2 linked regions of the Homo sapiens genome follow. The protein of the gene in region 1 binds, or shares a complex with, the protein of each later gene. Each region holds a gene or a part of one and is shown on either strand. Other genes may lie near its edges.

Region 1 (7,537 bases):
GCCATCATAGACTCTTGCTCTTGCCCTGACCTCTGCTAATTTGGGGACTCTCACCCTGGTGCTCATTTATGCTAAGTTGGGGACTCTCACTCTGGCCCTGACTTGTGTTTTGTTGAGGATTACTGCTCCGGCCCCAGCTTCTGCTAGGATAGGGACTGCTTTTCTGACTTGGACTTCTGCTCAGATGATGCCTCTTGCTCCAGCTCTGACTTCTGCCATCATGGGGACTCTTGCTTTGGCTCCGGCTTTGGCTTTGGTGGGAACTCCTGCTCTCGCTGTCACTACTCTGGCATTTGCTAATAATAGTCGAACTACAGCTGGGATTGGTGCTACAGCTGGAATCCTTGGATGAAGGCAAAGGGCAGCTGTAGGGGATCTGCAGAGGCTCTTTGCAAGGGCCTTGAGAGGCCACAGGGTAGATATGGAGGCCACAGGGGACAGTATCAGGGTAGGCCCGGACTCGGGGGACAATGGGTAAACTTTGAGGATCAAAGGGTGTTCTCAAAGGGATAAAAGAATAGATGTGGGTAGAACAAGGAGGCATCACAGGCTGACAACGAGGTTGGGGTGGGCCCCTGGGAGTGCTATAGGTGTCACACAGGGGCACAATGGGAGGGGGGCCTGTCGAATGATTGAGGGAGCCAGACAGTGGGCAGGGATGGGGGGTGGAGGGAACCACAGAGCATATATGGGTATTGCAGGGGGGCCCTATGGAGGGTCCATGGCGGCTGCTCTGAGCATAACTATTGGCCGAGACAGGATCACAAGGAAGGCAGAGGGGAAAAGAAGTGGGGATAACACTTTTGAGAGCTCTAGGGACCACAGTCAGTAAGGTAGTCCCTGGGGGAAGTTCTTTGGGGCTGGAATTTGAAGGAGTTGTGATGTATGGCTGCATACAAGAAGGACCAGAGAGGCAGGAGGGAGGTGGGGGACAGGTGTGGGCCTTAGCGGGCTTGGGCTGGCCAGAAGGGGTGTGCTGGGGAGTGTTGACTAGGGAGAGACATTTGTGGGGAGTATGTGACTGTCTTAACTCTGGGGACTTAGGGGACTTCGGTTGGGGGGAAACTGGAGTGGGAAGAGGGGGTTCATTATAGCTTCTGCGGGGAAGTGACTGGGGTGGAGATATAAACTGGTTGCCCAGGGGTGAAGGGAAGGAAAGGACAGAATGAGGACCATGGGGACGAGATGGTTCCTGGGAACAGGGGGGACCAGAAGTTGTGGTGTCCGGGGTTAGGATGAGGTAAGAGTTCCCAGTTGCCTCCCAGGAGAGAAGGGACTCAATGCAAGCCTTCCTGGGAGCCTGGGACTGGGGTGAGCAAGGAGAATCAGTACTCCCGGGGCACAGGCAGATGGCATAGCAAGGACTCCCAGGGGTAGGTATGTAGGCCTCTGAGGAAAGATGGGAGTAATGATAAGAGCCCTCCTGAGGTGAGCTGGGAGAGCCAGGCATGCCTGCCTGAGAAGAGAGTGGGAAGCCACAACAATTTTTCTCAAGGGGCAGGTCAAGCTGTGGTTTGGGTTCACAAGAGTCTAGAGGCTTAAGGCTGCCATGGTAAAAGCTGCCAGTAGGTGGGGAAGATGCTGGGGAGAGAAGGGGGTCATTATAACTTCTCCCTGAGAACCAGTGAGAGGGCAGAGAGATCATCAGCCCAGTTTCCAAAACTCTGTGAGAAAGGGTTGGGGAGGCCATAGGACTAGTTTCCACCGGCCGGCGAGCAAGAGGAGGTGAAATCGTGAGGCAAGTTCCCGGGGTCCTATGTGTAGGAGGAGGCGAAATCATGGGTCCAGTTTCCAAGGGTACATGAGTGAGCTGAGGGGAGGTCACTGGGCTCGTTCCCGGGGACTGATGAGCAAGGGGAAAGGAGGTTGCCGGGCTGGTTCCAAAAGCTGAAGGCCATCCGCTAGAGTAACAGAGATTAGTGTGCTGGTCACAGTACGTGCCTTGAAGACAGGGACGCCGCATTCTGGAGGGACTCATCCAGCTGCAATAAGGTGTCCGCTGACAGAGAGGGGGTGACCCCGGAATGCTGAACTGCTCAAAATAAGGGCTGGAGAGTGGGGAACCCGAGTGGCAGGGCTAGCGGCAGTAGGTCCTTTCCAGGAGTGGGGAAGAGGACTCAAAAGACCATCTCCCTGAGTGCGAGGAAGGTTGTGGGGGTGGAAGAGATGGTGGAGGTGGCGAGGGAATCGGCTGGGGTGGGCAGGGGGGCGTGCCGGTCATAGAAGAAATTCCAGGGCTTCCAGTGAGGCAAGAAAAAGGGTCTCTGGAGAAGCAAGGAGAGTCCAGAGGATGAGAGGATTCGTTGCACCTTTTGCCAGGGTTTGGGCCGGCAGTATGGACAGGGTGGTCGCTGTAACCTTGCCCGGTCGCCAGAGGCAGCTCGAGGTTGAGGAAGGGGCTGAATCCTTTCCTGCAAGGCGGCGGAGACCCAGGAGTGCAGGCAAGGTCGCTATGGTATTTTCCGAGGGGTGAGGGCGACCGGGCTGGAAAATCAATGAGGAAAGGAGAAGTCATGTGGGGGAAGAATGGGCAAGGGAAAGGGGGAGGGGAGGGAGGGAAGTAAAAGGGGGAGTGGGGGACAGAAAGGTAGGTGGACACAGCTGGGGAACAAGAGACAGTGACATCACTAAAAGAATGAAGGCGAAGGTGATGACGCAACTTGGGCGGAGTCAGGAGACTGCAGACGTAACAAGTGGAAGACACTAACGCTCGGGACATAGAGTGCGGACAGAGGCGGTGACGGAAAAGACGAGAGAGGGAGGTGCCTAAGGACGTTCCGTGGAGTGCTTGGGAAAGACGCTAGGCGTTCTAGAGGGCCGGGAAACGGAAAGACTGGAGAAGTTTCCACCCTCACTTTTCCCTCCTGCGCCCCCAGCCGGACCTTACCCATTTCTTCTTATATCGATGTCTCCGCGGGACCGTCGCGAGGTCCACACGCTTCAGCAGCTCCCGGACACCCCTCAGTGTCAGCGCAGCCATATCGGCGTGCTCCACGGGGTAATTCCGACCGGAACCGCGACAGGAGACTCGCGTGTTCCGGGGAGGTGGTGAGCGCCACCCGGCGGGACACGAGCGAAAAAAGGGAAAGGAAATACATCTGACGCTCTCCCAGGACTCCGCGCGCCTCTACAGACTCCGCCCAGCCAGGAGTCCCCTGAAGGCTGCTGGAAAAAGAGCAACCTGGCACCCGGAATAATGACTCTGCCTGGATGCTTAGAGCAGTGCGAGGGACTCCCAAGAAGCCCCTAGCCCACTTGGGGGACCAGGGAGGATTAGGAGTTGGTGGTTGAGTACCGAAAGAGTTAGCTAGGCGAAAAGGGGCGGGAAGGGCCTCCTAGGCCGAAATTGCATGGAGGAAGATCCTTAGGTAGAGGAAAATGAGACCAGGCTTGTAGGCAGAAGCAGATTTGCAGTGAAACAAATGAAGCTTAAGTTTCGGGACCTGGCCGGGCGTGGTGGCTCACGCCTGTAATCCCAGCACTTTGGGAGGCCGAGGCGAGCAGATCACGAGGTCAGGAGATCGAGACCCTCCTGGCTAACACGGTGAAACCCCGTCTCTACCAAAAATACAAAAAATTAGCCGGGCGAGGTTGCTGGCGCCTGCAGTCCCAGCTACTCGGGAAGCTGAGGGATGGCGTGAACCCGGGAGGCGGAGCTTGCAGTGAGCCCAGATCGCGCCACTGCACTCCAGCCTGGGCGACAAAGCGAGACTCCGTCTCAAAAAAAAAAAAAAAAAAAAAAAAAGTGGAGGCGTGAATAACCCACCCCTTGTTTAGCGTACCATCAAGAAATAACCATAAAAATGGGCAAGCAGCCCTTGGAGCTGCTCTATCTATGGACTATCCATTCTTTTATTCTTGTACTTTAATAAACTTGCTCTCACTTTGCATTGCGGACTCGCCCTGAATTCTTTCTTGTGCGAGATCCATGAACCTCTCTTGGGGTCCGGATCGGGACCCCTTTCTGGTAACAATGCCTGTAATCCCAGCCAATCTCCCTGCCTTTTGATCTCCCTGCCTCACTCCTACCCACCCTGATAATTGGCTGTTGAATGATCATTTAAAAACACAGTTTCTGATCATGTCCCTCCTCTCCACTGGATCCCTACTGGTGATGTCAAATGTTGTGGGGCCTAACGCTTCCGCAATTTGAGAAGACATAGTTAAGAAAAATAATACAAAACTTGGCCGGGCGCGGTGGCTCACGCTGCCCCCAGCCGAAAGCTTTTTCTTATTTGGCATTTGAATGTGGAATTTTGGAATTTTCTTATTGGCAACAAATACTGTCAGTTATTTTCCTTGAAGTGACAGGCTCACTTTGTTCATTTTTCAAGAAAAAGGCTGGCCGGCACTGTGGCTCATTCCTGTAATCCTAGCACTTGGGAGGCCGAGGTGGGTGGATCACCTGAGGTCAGGAGTTGGAGACCAGCCAGGCCAACGTGGTGAAACCCAGTCTCTACTAAAAATACAAAAATTAGTTGGGCATGGTGGCTCATGCCTGTAATCCCAGCTACTTGGGAGGCCGAGGCAGGAGAATAACTTGAAACCAGGAGGCAGAGGTTGCAGTGAGCTGAGATCATGCCACTGCACTCCAGGCTGGGCAACAGAGTGAGACTCTGTCTCAAAAGAAAAATTCTAGTATATTAAAATATAATTGATTTTTTCTGTTGACCTTGTATCCTGAGACCTTCCTAAACTCAATTATTACTTTTGGTAACTTTTTGGAAATCTGTTCAGGTTTTCTATGCATATGGTCATGTCTTTTGTAAATAAAGACACTTTAACTTCTTTCTTTTCTATCTATATCCCTTTTTTTTTTCTTTGCTTTATTCCACTGGCTAGGACTTCCAGTACACAGTTGAATGTAAGTGGTGATGGTAGGCATCCTTGCCTTGTTCCCATTCTTAAGAAGAAAGCATTTAGTACTTCACCATTATATATGATGTTAGCTGTAGTTTTGTGTGTGCGTGTACCTGCATGTGTATAGATGTCCTTTCTTAGGTTTAGAAAGTTCCCTTCTGTTCCTAGTTTGCTGAGATTTTAAAAAATCATGATAGTTGTTGATTTTCCTTAAGTTTTTTTTTTTTTTCTGTTAAGATGATCATACAGTTTTACTCCTTTTTTTTTTTTTTCTTTTTGACGGAGTTTCGCTCTGTCACCAGGCTGGAGTGCAGTGGTGCCATCTCGGCTCACTGCAACCTCCGCCTCCTAGGTTCAAGCAATTATTCTGCCTCAGCCTCCTGAGTAGCTGTTATCACAGGCATGCACCACCACGCCTGGCTAATTTTTGTATTTTTAGTAGAGATGGGGTTTCACCGTGTTGGCCAGGCTGGTCTCGAACTCCTGATCTCAGGTGATCCGCCCACCTCCCAAAGTGCTGTGATTAGGTGTGAGCCCCTGCGCCCAGCCAGTTTTACTTCTTTATTCCATTACTATGATGCATCATGTTGACTGACTTTTCAATATGAACCAACTTTGCATTCTTGTAAAAAACACATCAATTCATGATACAAATACAGTATTTTTTTTCTTTTAGACAGAGTCTTGCTCTGTCACCCAGGCTGCAGTGCAGTGGCACAATCTTGGCTCACTGCAACCCACGCCTCCCAGGTTCAAGCGATTCTTCTGCCTCAGCCTCCTGAGTAGCTGAGACTACAGGTGCAGGCCACCACGCCCAGCTAATTTTTATATTTTTAGTAGAGTCAGGGTTTTGCCATGTTGGCCAATCTGGTCTTGAACTCCTGACCTCAGGTGATCCACCCACCTTGGCCTCCCAAAGTGCTGCGATTACAGGTACGAGCCACTGCGCCCAGCCGATGATACAGTATTCTTTTTAAATATTGTTGGGATTCTTTTTTGTGTGTGTGTGTGTGTTTTTTTTTTTTTTTGAGACGGAGCCTTGCTCTTTCACCCAGGCCGGAGTGCAGTGGCGCTATTTCTGCTCACTGCAAGCTCCGCCTCCCGGGTTCACGCCATTCTCCTGCCTCAGCCTCCCGAGTAGCTGGGACTACAGGCGCCCGCCACCGCGCCCGGCTAATTTTTTGTATTTTTAGTAGAGATGGGGTTTCACTGTGTTAGCCAGGATTGTCTCGATCTCCTGACCTCGTGATCCGCCCGCTCCGGCCTCCCAGATTGTTGGGATTCTTGGGTCTGAGTTAATGAGTCGTATTTGCCTGCAGTTTTTTCTTCTTATAAAGTCTTTGTTTGATTCTGATATCAGGGTAATGCTGGCCTCATAAAATGAATTTAGGAAATGTCCCTTCACTTCTATTTTCTTTTTTTTTTTTAATTTTTTCTTTTTTTGAGTTGGAGTTTCCTTCTTGTTGCCCAGGCTGGAGTGCAATGGCATGATCTCGGCTCACTGCAACCTCCGCCTCCCAGGTTCAAGCGATTCTCCTGCCTCAGCCTCCTGAGTAGCTAGGATTACAGGCACCCGCCACCGCACCTGGCTAATTTTTTTTTCTTTTGTATTTTTAGTAGAGACAGGGTTTCACCATGTTGGCCAGGCTGGTGATTTTTTTTTTTTTTTTTTTTTTTTTTTTTTTTTTGAGACGGAGTCTCGCTGTCGCCCAGGCTGGAGTGCAGTGGCGCAATCTCGGCTCACTGCAGGCTCCGCCCCCGGGGGTTCACGCCATTCTCCTGCCTCAGCCTCCCGAGTAGCTGGGACTACAGGCGCCCGCCACCTCGCCCGGCTAATTTTTTGTATTTTTAGTAGAGACGGGGTTTCACCGTGTTAGCCAGGATGGTCTCGATCTCCTGACCTCGTGATCCGCCCGCCTCGGCCTCCCAAAGTCAGGCTGGTGATTTTTATTGATATATAATAATTGTACATATTTTGGGAGTACATGTGATATTTTGATACATGTATATGATGTATAATGATCAATTATGAAGGGATTGGGATATCCATCACCTCAAACACAAACATTTATCTTTGTGTTGGGATCATTATAATTCTTCTAGATATTTTAAAATATACACTAAATTATTTATAATTATAATTTCCCTACTTTACTATCAAATACTAGAATTTATTCCTTCTCTCTAACCATATTTTTGTACCTATTAACCAACTTCTCAATTTCTTTTTTTTTTTTCTTTTTTTGAGGAGTCTCGCTCTGTCGCCCAGGCTGGAGTGCAGTGGTGCCATCTCGGCTCGCTGCAAGCTCCACCTCCTGGGTTCACACCATTCTCCTGCCTCAGCCTCCCAAGTAGCTGGGACTACAGGTGCCCACCACCACGCCTGGCTAATTTTTTATATTTTTTAGTAGAGACAGGGTTTCACCATGTTAGCCAGGATGGTGTTGATCTCCTGACCTCAGGTGATCCGCCTGCCTCGGCCTCCCAAAGTGCTGGGATTACAGGCATGAGCCACTGCGCCTGGCCTTTTTTTTTTTTTTTTTTTTGTGACGGAGTTTCCTTCTTGTTGCCCAGGCTGGAGTGCAATGGCACATCTTGGCTCATCACAACCTCCGCCTCCCAGGTTCAAGCAATTCTCCTGCCTCAGCCTCCCGAGCAGCTGGGATTACGGGCATGT
Region 2 (7,868 bases), on another chromosome or scaffold:
TTCACCATGTTGGCCAGGCTGATCTTGAACCCCTGACCTCAAGTGATCTGCCTGCCTCGGCCTCCCAAAGATCTGGGATTACAGGCATGAGCCACCGCACCCAGCCAAAATCTGCAACTTCTTGTACCTTCTCCAAGCCCAAGCTTTTGCAGGTAACTGGAGCGCTTCCTCATTTGCATAATAGGCAGTTTCAATAACTGGGGACTTTTCTTCAAGACCACACACACAGGCTCTGGATTCAGACCCAAGAGAATAAATTCTGAAATGATGTCCAGCAACTGTTGAAGACTGGCACCTCGCCGTACACTGAGCAATTCATTAATATGGGCATTGCTGAAACCCATGTCCAGGAGGGAACTCATGACCCTCTCTAGCTCCAAGGACCCTTGTACCACAGGAGTCCCCTGCTTCTCAAGGAGGCACTGAACAAGATTCCTCCTGCACTCTGGTTCCTGCACATAGTTATTGGATCTAACACAAGATAACTCCTCAATGACCCCTCCATTGGAGGCTGTAGTCAGTTTGCGCAACAAAGAAGCTGTCGTCCTTCTCTGTTCTCCAAGATGAGGAGTCTGCCTAGCCATACAGGCCCAGGTGAGGGGGATCAGGCGGTGCCAATCAAGGACCTGTAAGACACAGGACCAAAAGACAATTAATTCCTCACTATTCCAGTGTAATGGACACCATAAGACTTCTGAGCCAGAGTACTTACTGCCTTGGTTCCACACAAACATACAATTTTTATAAGCAATCTGCAAAATCCTATCTGAACTTAAGCCTACAGAGAAGGAAGCTCACAAAGAACAGGGTATTTCAAGGCCACAGAGATGGGAGTCAAGCAGGTACAATATTGTTAGCTTTTGCAGCTTTAAGGATGGGAGCAGGGACATGGAGGAAGAGGGAAAAACTATTTCTAGGCCACCTGGTCATGTGTGCCAGAAAAGTCTGGACCTCAGACTACTTTCCAGATTCATGTTCTTAAATTCATTCCACGAGAAGAATCTTGTGGGATACAGAGTTGGCCCTTGAACAACAAGGGTTTGAACTGCTTGGATCCACTTATATGTGGATTTTCTTCCGCCTCTGCCACCCTTGAGACACCAAGACCAAACTCTCCTTCACCTCCTCTTCAGCCTAAAGACCTTATGAGGATCTACTTCCTCTTAATGAATAGTAAATACATTTTCTCTTAGGATTTTCTTTTTGTTTTTTGAGACGGGGGTCTCACTCTGTTGCCCAGGCTGGAGTGCAGTGGTGCAATCATGGCTCACTGCAGCCTTGACTTCCCCAGGCTGAGGTAATCCTCCCACCTCAGCCTTCTGAGTAGCTGGGACTACAGGTGCACACTACACCCTGCTAATTTTTGTATTTTTTGTAGAGACGGGGTTTTGCCCTTATGATTTTCTGAATAACGTTTTCTTTTCTCTAGCTTACTTTAAGAATACAGAATGCAATATATATATATACAAGATATGTGTTAACTGTTTATGTTGTCGGTAAGGCTTCCAGTCATGAGTAGGCTATTAGTAGTTGAGTTTTGGAGGAGTCAAACGTTATACACTGATTTTCAACTGGTGTGGGGGCGGTCTGGTGCCCCTAACCCCTGTGTTGTTCAAGGGTCACAGTAATTAGTCAACTTGCATACACAATTCCAGTTGACCTCAAAAGTCTTCAGTGGTTCAGGCTGGTGCTTAACAAACTATGCACAAATCATCCAGGCACTCTAAGCCAGCAGTCTTCAACGTTTTTGGCACCAGGGACTGGCTTCATGGAAGACAATTTTTCCACAGACTGGTGAGGGGTTTCAGGATGATTCAAGCATATTACATTTGTTGTGCACTTTATTTCTGTTATTTTCACGTTGTAATATAAGATGAAATAATTATACAACTCACCATAATGTAGAATCACTGGGAGCCCTGAGCTTGTTTTCCTACAACCAGGAGGTGCCATCTGGGGTTGATGGGAAACAGTGACAGATCATCGGGCATCAGATTCTCATAAGGAGCGCAACCTGGACCCCTCAAAGGCGCAGTTCACAATAGGGTTCGCGCTCCAGTGAGAATCTAAGGCGGCTGGTCTGACAGGAGGCGGAGCTCAGGCGGTAATGCCAGCGAAGGGAGCGGCTGTAAATACAGTCTGGCTGGCTCACTTGCCGCTCACCTCCTGCTGTGCAGCCTGGTTCCTAATAGGCAAGGGACGGTACCGGGGGTTGGGGAACCCCTGCTCTAAAACCTTCACATCGGTCCCAACCCCTTCTCCAGCGTCATCGATTGTCGCCCTGGGGCCACCCTGCCAAGCCCAAGCTCTGGCTGCTCTCCAGCCTCCCCTGTCCAGATGCTCCCTCCGCCAGGAACACCTGGCAGTCGCTGGGGTCAGCGGGCGCGGCCCGTGGAACTGGGCTCAAGCCTAAAGACCTCTATGCTGATTCCGCTTCCTCTTAATGAAAAGTACATGTTATCTTCCTTGTGAAGTTCAAACTCTTGTTCAACAGTCAACTCAGGCCGGGCGCGGTGGCTCACGCCTGTAATCCCAGCACTTTGGGAGTTCGAGGCGGGTGGATCACCTGAGGCCAGAAGTTACAGACCAGACTGGCCAACACGGTGAAACCCCGTCTCTACTAAAAATACAAAAATTAGCCAGGCATGGTGGCGGGCGCCTGTAATCCCAGCTACTTGGGAGGCTGAAGCAGTAGAATTGCTTGAACCCGGGAGGCGGAGGTTGCAGTGAGCCGAGATCGCGCCATTGCACTCCAGCCTGGAGACAGAGCGAGACTTTGTCTCAAAAAAAAAAAATGTCAACTCTATATCCCACAATAATTGAGCAGAGCCACGGGTCCAGGATGCCAAAACCAGGTCAGCGTGCACGGACCTCCGGGAGGGCTCCACGACCTGGCCGTGAAACACTCGGCGGCCGCGGTTCCTCTGCGTCGCTGCCCGCCCGCCTGCGACCCGGAGAAGCCCGCGCGCCCAGCTCGAGCTTACCTGACGGCCGAACGCAGCCATAGCGCGGAGAAGATGGCAGCAGTTACGGCGCCGGAAGCAGCGGTCCTCCCCCGTCCTTCACTTCCGGCCCCCGGTCCGTCACCGACGCCGTTCCCAGCGCCAGCGCGGTGTGGTGGATCGTGATTCCGGCCCGGAGCTGTGCTGAGCGTTCACGGCCCCGCGGGGCTCAGGTGTCCCGGGGCCGCCCCTTAGAAAGCCGGAAGGCCGGAGTCGCGCCCGTCACCGTGCCGCCGCCTCTGCCGCGGCCTCAGCCTTCGGGGGCCTCGGTGTCCGGTTGTTCCCGTTGCACTGCCGTGTCCCGTTTCGCAGAGCTCTGGGCCGCGTGAACGAATGGGTCGTCCTGGCCCATACTTGTGTTTCAGATGACCTGAGAATTCCTCTCAAGAGTACAGGTAGAGGGGAACTGGTTCCTTGCTTCGGGAACTTCACCCGAGAGCGCAGAAATCCTTCCCGAGGCAGGAAAAATGGATTCCGTTCCATGTAGAGATATTTAAGATTTTATTGTGTAAAAATCTGTATTCAGCGTGAACACCGGGGCCACCTACGCACAAAAAGAAGTCTTTACCGCTTTTCTTTCTTTTTACTCTCAGCCAGTGGAAGATGAGAATTTGCCGTTTTTAAAAGACCCAAGTAAAATGACAGGAATTACGGCACATTTCCCTTTATAAGCAAGAGCCTTCCCAACTTCGAGGTCTGGTTCCCTCTTAGGATGAAATATAGTAAAGTTTTAGCCCAATGTGTATTCATTCTTAAATTTCCTCTCTCGACCTAAGAGCGTAGGCATCTTTCACAAGGTGATGCTTGTGAAGAATAAAAAGGTGTGCTTTCTCAGCTGCCTAAATCCTGCCACCAAAGCCTTAATTTATAAGCATTTCTTGTTTTATCTACTTCATTCTGGACTGACATAAAGGATTTGATTCTTGCATGGGCACACATTTACATATCTGCTTTGCGCCAGGCATGGAGTGGGGTGCCAAACAATTTATGTAAAACTGTCTTTTGACAAAAGGATTATGTCAAAGAAAAGGAAGGTTCTAATCCGTGTAGAAACTAAAGAATTGGTTGCTTTGGCAGAGTGCAGTGGCCCACGCCTGTAATCCCAGCACTGTGAGAGGCTGAGGTGGGGGGGATTGCCTGGGCTCAGGAGTTCAAGACCAACCTGAGCAACATAGGAAAATCCTGTCTCTACAAAAAATAAAAAATTAGCCGGGAGTAGTGGCGTGCACCTGTAGTCCCAGCTACTCAGGAGCCTGAAGTGGGAGGATCACTTGAGTCCAGGAGGTTGAGGCTGCAGTGAGCCATGATTGCACCACTGCACTCCAGCCTGCGTAACAGAGCAAGACCTTGTCTCAAAAAACAAAAGGAAAAAAAAAATTGGTTGCCTTTGTTGTTTTTTATAATGTAATTTTCTTCTCAAAATACTCAACTGTCAACATCTCACAATAAATTGTGTTAATGCTACACCAAAAGCCTAAGAAAATCCCATGAGCCACCCCAACTCCCTGGAAAGAATCAAGGAACCTGAACAGTTTGTCTAGCTCTAGAAATAAAATGACAGCTGGGACATGGGGATTACTATGAAAAATTGACATGAGCCCGGGTGTGGTGGCTCACGCCTGTAATCCCAGCACTTTGGGAGGCCGAGGTGGGCAGATCACCTGAGGTCAGGGGTTTGAGACCAGCCTGGAAAACATGGTGAAACCCCATCTCTACTAAAAATACAAAAATTAGCCAGGCATGGTGGTGGGCACCTGTAGTGTCAGCTACTCAGGAGGCTGAGGCAGGAGAATCACTTGAACCTGGGAGGCGGAGGTTGCAGTGAGCCAAGATCACGCCATTGTACTGCAGCCTGGGCAACAAAAGCGAAAGTACTTCTCAAAAAAAAAAAAAAAAAATTTGACATCACCTTCAGTCTTGTGTGAAAACTTTGCTCTCTCGAACCATACTTTAAAAATATGCAGTGGGTTGGGCACGGTGGCTCATGCTTGTAATCCCAGCACTTTGAGAGGCTGAGATGGGTGGATCACCTGAGGTCAGGAGTTCGAGACCAGCCTGGCCAATATAGTGAAACCCTGCCTCTACTAAAAATACAAAAATTAGCCAGGTAACGTGATAACGCACACTTGTAATCCCAGCTACTCGGGAGGCTGAGGCAGGAGAATTGCTTGAACCCAGGGAACGGAGGTTGCAGTGAGCCGAGATTGCACCATTGCACTCCAGCCTGGGTGACAGAGCAAGATTCCATCTTAAAAAAAAAAAAAAAAATGGAGTGGAAAAATTGTCAGCCTCAGCCTCAGAACTTTCCTCTCTGGGTTCTTTCTGCAAAGAACGTTTGCAAAATACCAGACCTTCCACTGCCATGAAGTCAGATGAGCTTTAATTATTTTTTCTTATAAAGAAGTAACAGTTCTTAGAAAGCTCAGACTATGCATTCTCAACCCATTAAACACCTGTCTGCAAACACCATTGTGGCCGAACGCAGTGGCTCATGCCTGTAATCCCAACATTTTGGGAGGCCGAGGCGGGCGGATCATGAGGTCAGGAGTTTGAGACCAGCCTGGCCAACATAGTGAAACCTCGTCTCTACTAAAAATACAAAAATTTAGCCAGGCGTGGTGGTGGGCACCTGTAATCCCAGCTACTTGGGAGGCTGAGGCAGAATTGCTTGAACCTGGGAGGCGGAGGTTGCAGTGAGCTGAGATCGCACCATTGCACTCCAGCCCAGGCGACAGTATAAGACTCTGTCTCTAAATAAATAAACAAACAAACAAACACCATTCTATAACATCCTCTGTGTTATAAGCACCATAAACACTACAAGGTAGGGGTTCTTAAAACATCAGAAAACTCTTTGAATTCTGAAGAGTGAACATCACTGACTTTAATACACACCTGTAAAACCCTTGTACCTTGAATGTCCCTGATAGAGGAGGGTCCTCCCCCACCAACTCCATCAGTCACTTGTGGTGGCAGCGAGGCTCAGGCAGCACTTTCTGAAGAAAGGGATGGCAATAGCCCATATCCTACTAGATGGGACTAAAATTAACTCTGATCATCCCAAAACAGTTGAGTGCCTCCTAAATAACCACTAGAAATAGCTCAGAACCACGCAGGAGGCAGCCTGGCTCCCAGGCAGCTTCCAGAGGGTTCTGGGCAGGAGTCTCAGAATGTGGAAAAACCGTCTGCAAGTGATGACATGTGGGAAAAGGGTAGGGGTTTAGGTTTTTGGTTTTTTTCCTACTGTCTCAGCAGGGGAAAAAAATGAAAGGTTCTGCTCTCACCTCTAGCTATTCCCTCCTCTCTAACACAGACATGAAATAAAACAATCCTAAGTACTTGACCTAGCCAAGTCTGTCTGAGGGGGATGGACTGGAGTCTAAGGGAGGGAAGCAGCCAGTTGAGTATCTGACAAACACCCTGGAACCTGAGCAGCTCGGAGGAATACAGGGCTGGAGCCCCTCACACAGACCAGAGGTGGGGGCTGGGCCAGGAAGCCCCTCATGTGGACAGAGGTGGGAGCTGGCTGGCCATGGGATATTTGGGGACTGCTGGCAGTGAGCCAGCCACGTGTTTGACAGCAGAGTCTTGCTACAGACAGAAGGGAGGTCCCTGAGGAAGCCACCCTCCCCCGTCTTACCAGATGGAGCAAGCTTCAGAGCCCTAGGCCCACCCCTGGCAGGGCCTGCTTGTAAAAGGAACCCCAGAATGGCCAAGGCTAGACTTCTCTCCAACTGTGGCAAGTGGGGTGCACACATGGAAAAATGAGGAAACCAGGTATTTCTCACACTTAGCACACGGGAACAGTTCACAACATCCAAGTCAGGATAACTGTTTACTAACAAAGGTGCTTTAATTTGAAAAGCATTTGAGGAAATAAATTAATGAAATAGTCTGGCCATTTGACTAACCAGTTCTACAAATTTCACATATCCGTCACTCAGATGAGCATATACCAAGTCAGAGGAAACAAAACATGCACATATACAAAAGTAGAAAGAGAAAACACTCATGCCTTCAGAAGTTCACAAATTAAAAGCCCTTTAATAATATAAAACAGTTGAACACTGGAATGTTTTTTTCTAGGTCATGAAAAAAGTGAATTCCAAATCTATGTAATAAATCTAAAATAATACAGCATCACTGTCTTCTGTTCTGGTGTTTATCAAACCTGCACATGAGTTTTTAGAAGGTGAATTGGGGATGCTTCAGAATGTATTTTCTCCAAACAGATGGAGCCTGAAAACTGTGTGATTTTCCAAACCAAGTGGAGAAAAGCAGGAAGAAATTGGTGTTTAGCTGGTCAGCAGACGGGGATCCCCGGGATGCAAACAGCCTTGGCCATTAGGAGCCTCGCCTGGAACGGGGCCCCCACAAAGCTCCTGAGCCTGGGCCACATCACTCAGGCTCCTGTTCCCCATCTCCAGGCTCGCAGCGGACAGAACTCCACTTTCTGAAGAAACAAGAAGGTAACTGTATCACGTGCTAACAACTTAAGGTTCTAAAATACTTTGCTTCTCACTTGAAGAAGTCCTAGAACAAAAGCCTAAGGTGAGGCCCTCAGAAATCCAACTGGCAATGTCCCGGAAGTACAGATCCTGCCAAGGTGGGGATCTAAGCCCAGGGCCATCAACCGCAGCTTGGTCCAAATGCTCTGAGCAGTGGTTTTGGCTCTGTGGCCAGAGCCTTGTCTGAAGAGCCCTCGGCCCCGCCGGCTGCTAGAGAATCACTCTCAGCATCTGTGGCCTCATCCTCCCCTTCGGCCCAGTCAGACCATCACCAGCTGCATTCCTCAAACCATCTTTGAGGGTTCCGACCCCTTCTGCCAGGAGCTCCCATGACACCTGCCCACCCTCCAAGGTCCAA

What was found. The genes of interacting proteins can lie anywhere in the genome.
Region 2: the proteins of NSUN4 (region 1) and MTERF4 are in contact, whole or in part, in a crystal structure (PDB 4FP9), measured with the Homo sapiens proteins. Residues at the interface, in NP_950245.2 of Homo sapiens: Pro61, Ser62, Arg64, Val65, Leu68, Ser69, Glu70, Arg136, Gly137, Asp138, Ile139, Arg141, Asn367, Leu368, Met369; in NP_872307.2 of Homo sapiens: Tyr267, Glu269, Arg270, Leu271, Gly272, Arg273, Glu311, Glu312, Val315, Phe316, Lys318, Leu319, Arg322, Glu323, Glu326.

The regions. Positions count from the first base shown.
Region 1 is NC_000001.11:46,336,270-46,343,806, reverse strand, and holds the start of NSUN4 (5-cytosine rRNA methyltransferase NSUN4), read right to left. Parts: upstream 3,001-7,537; 5' UTR 2,981-3,000; coding exon 2,888-2,980; intron 2,630-2,887; exon of another isoform or gene 1-2,629. UniProt on the Homo sapiens protein: Mitochondrial RNA cytosine C(5)-methyltransferase that methylates cytosine to 5-methylcytosine (m5C) in various RNAs, such as rRNAs, mRNAs and some long non-coding RNAs (lncRNAs).
Region 2 is NC_000002.12:241,099,269-241,107,136, forward strand, and holds the start of MTERF4 (transcription termination factor 4, mitochondrial), read right to left. Parts: upstream 3,020-7,868; 5' UTR 3,006-3,019; coding exon 2,985-3,005; intron 627-2,984; coding exon 128-626; intron 1-127. Other genes in the region: PASK (PAS domain-containing serine/threonine-protein kinase), read right to left, coding at 7,298-7,455. UniProt on the Homo sapiens protein: Regulator of mitochondrial ribosome biogenesis and translation. Binds to mitochondrial ribosomal RNAs 16S, 12S and 7S and targets NSUN4 RNA methyltransferase to the mitochondrial large ribosomal subunit (39S).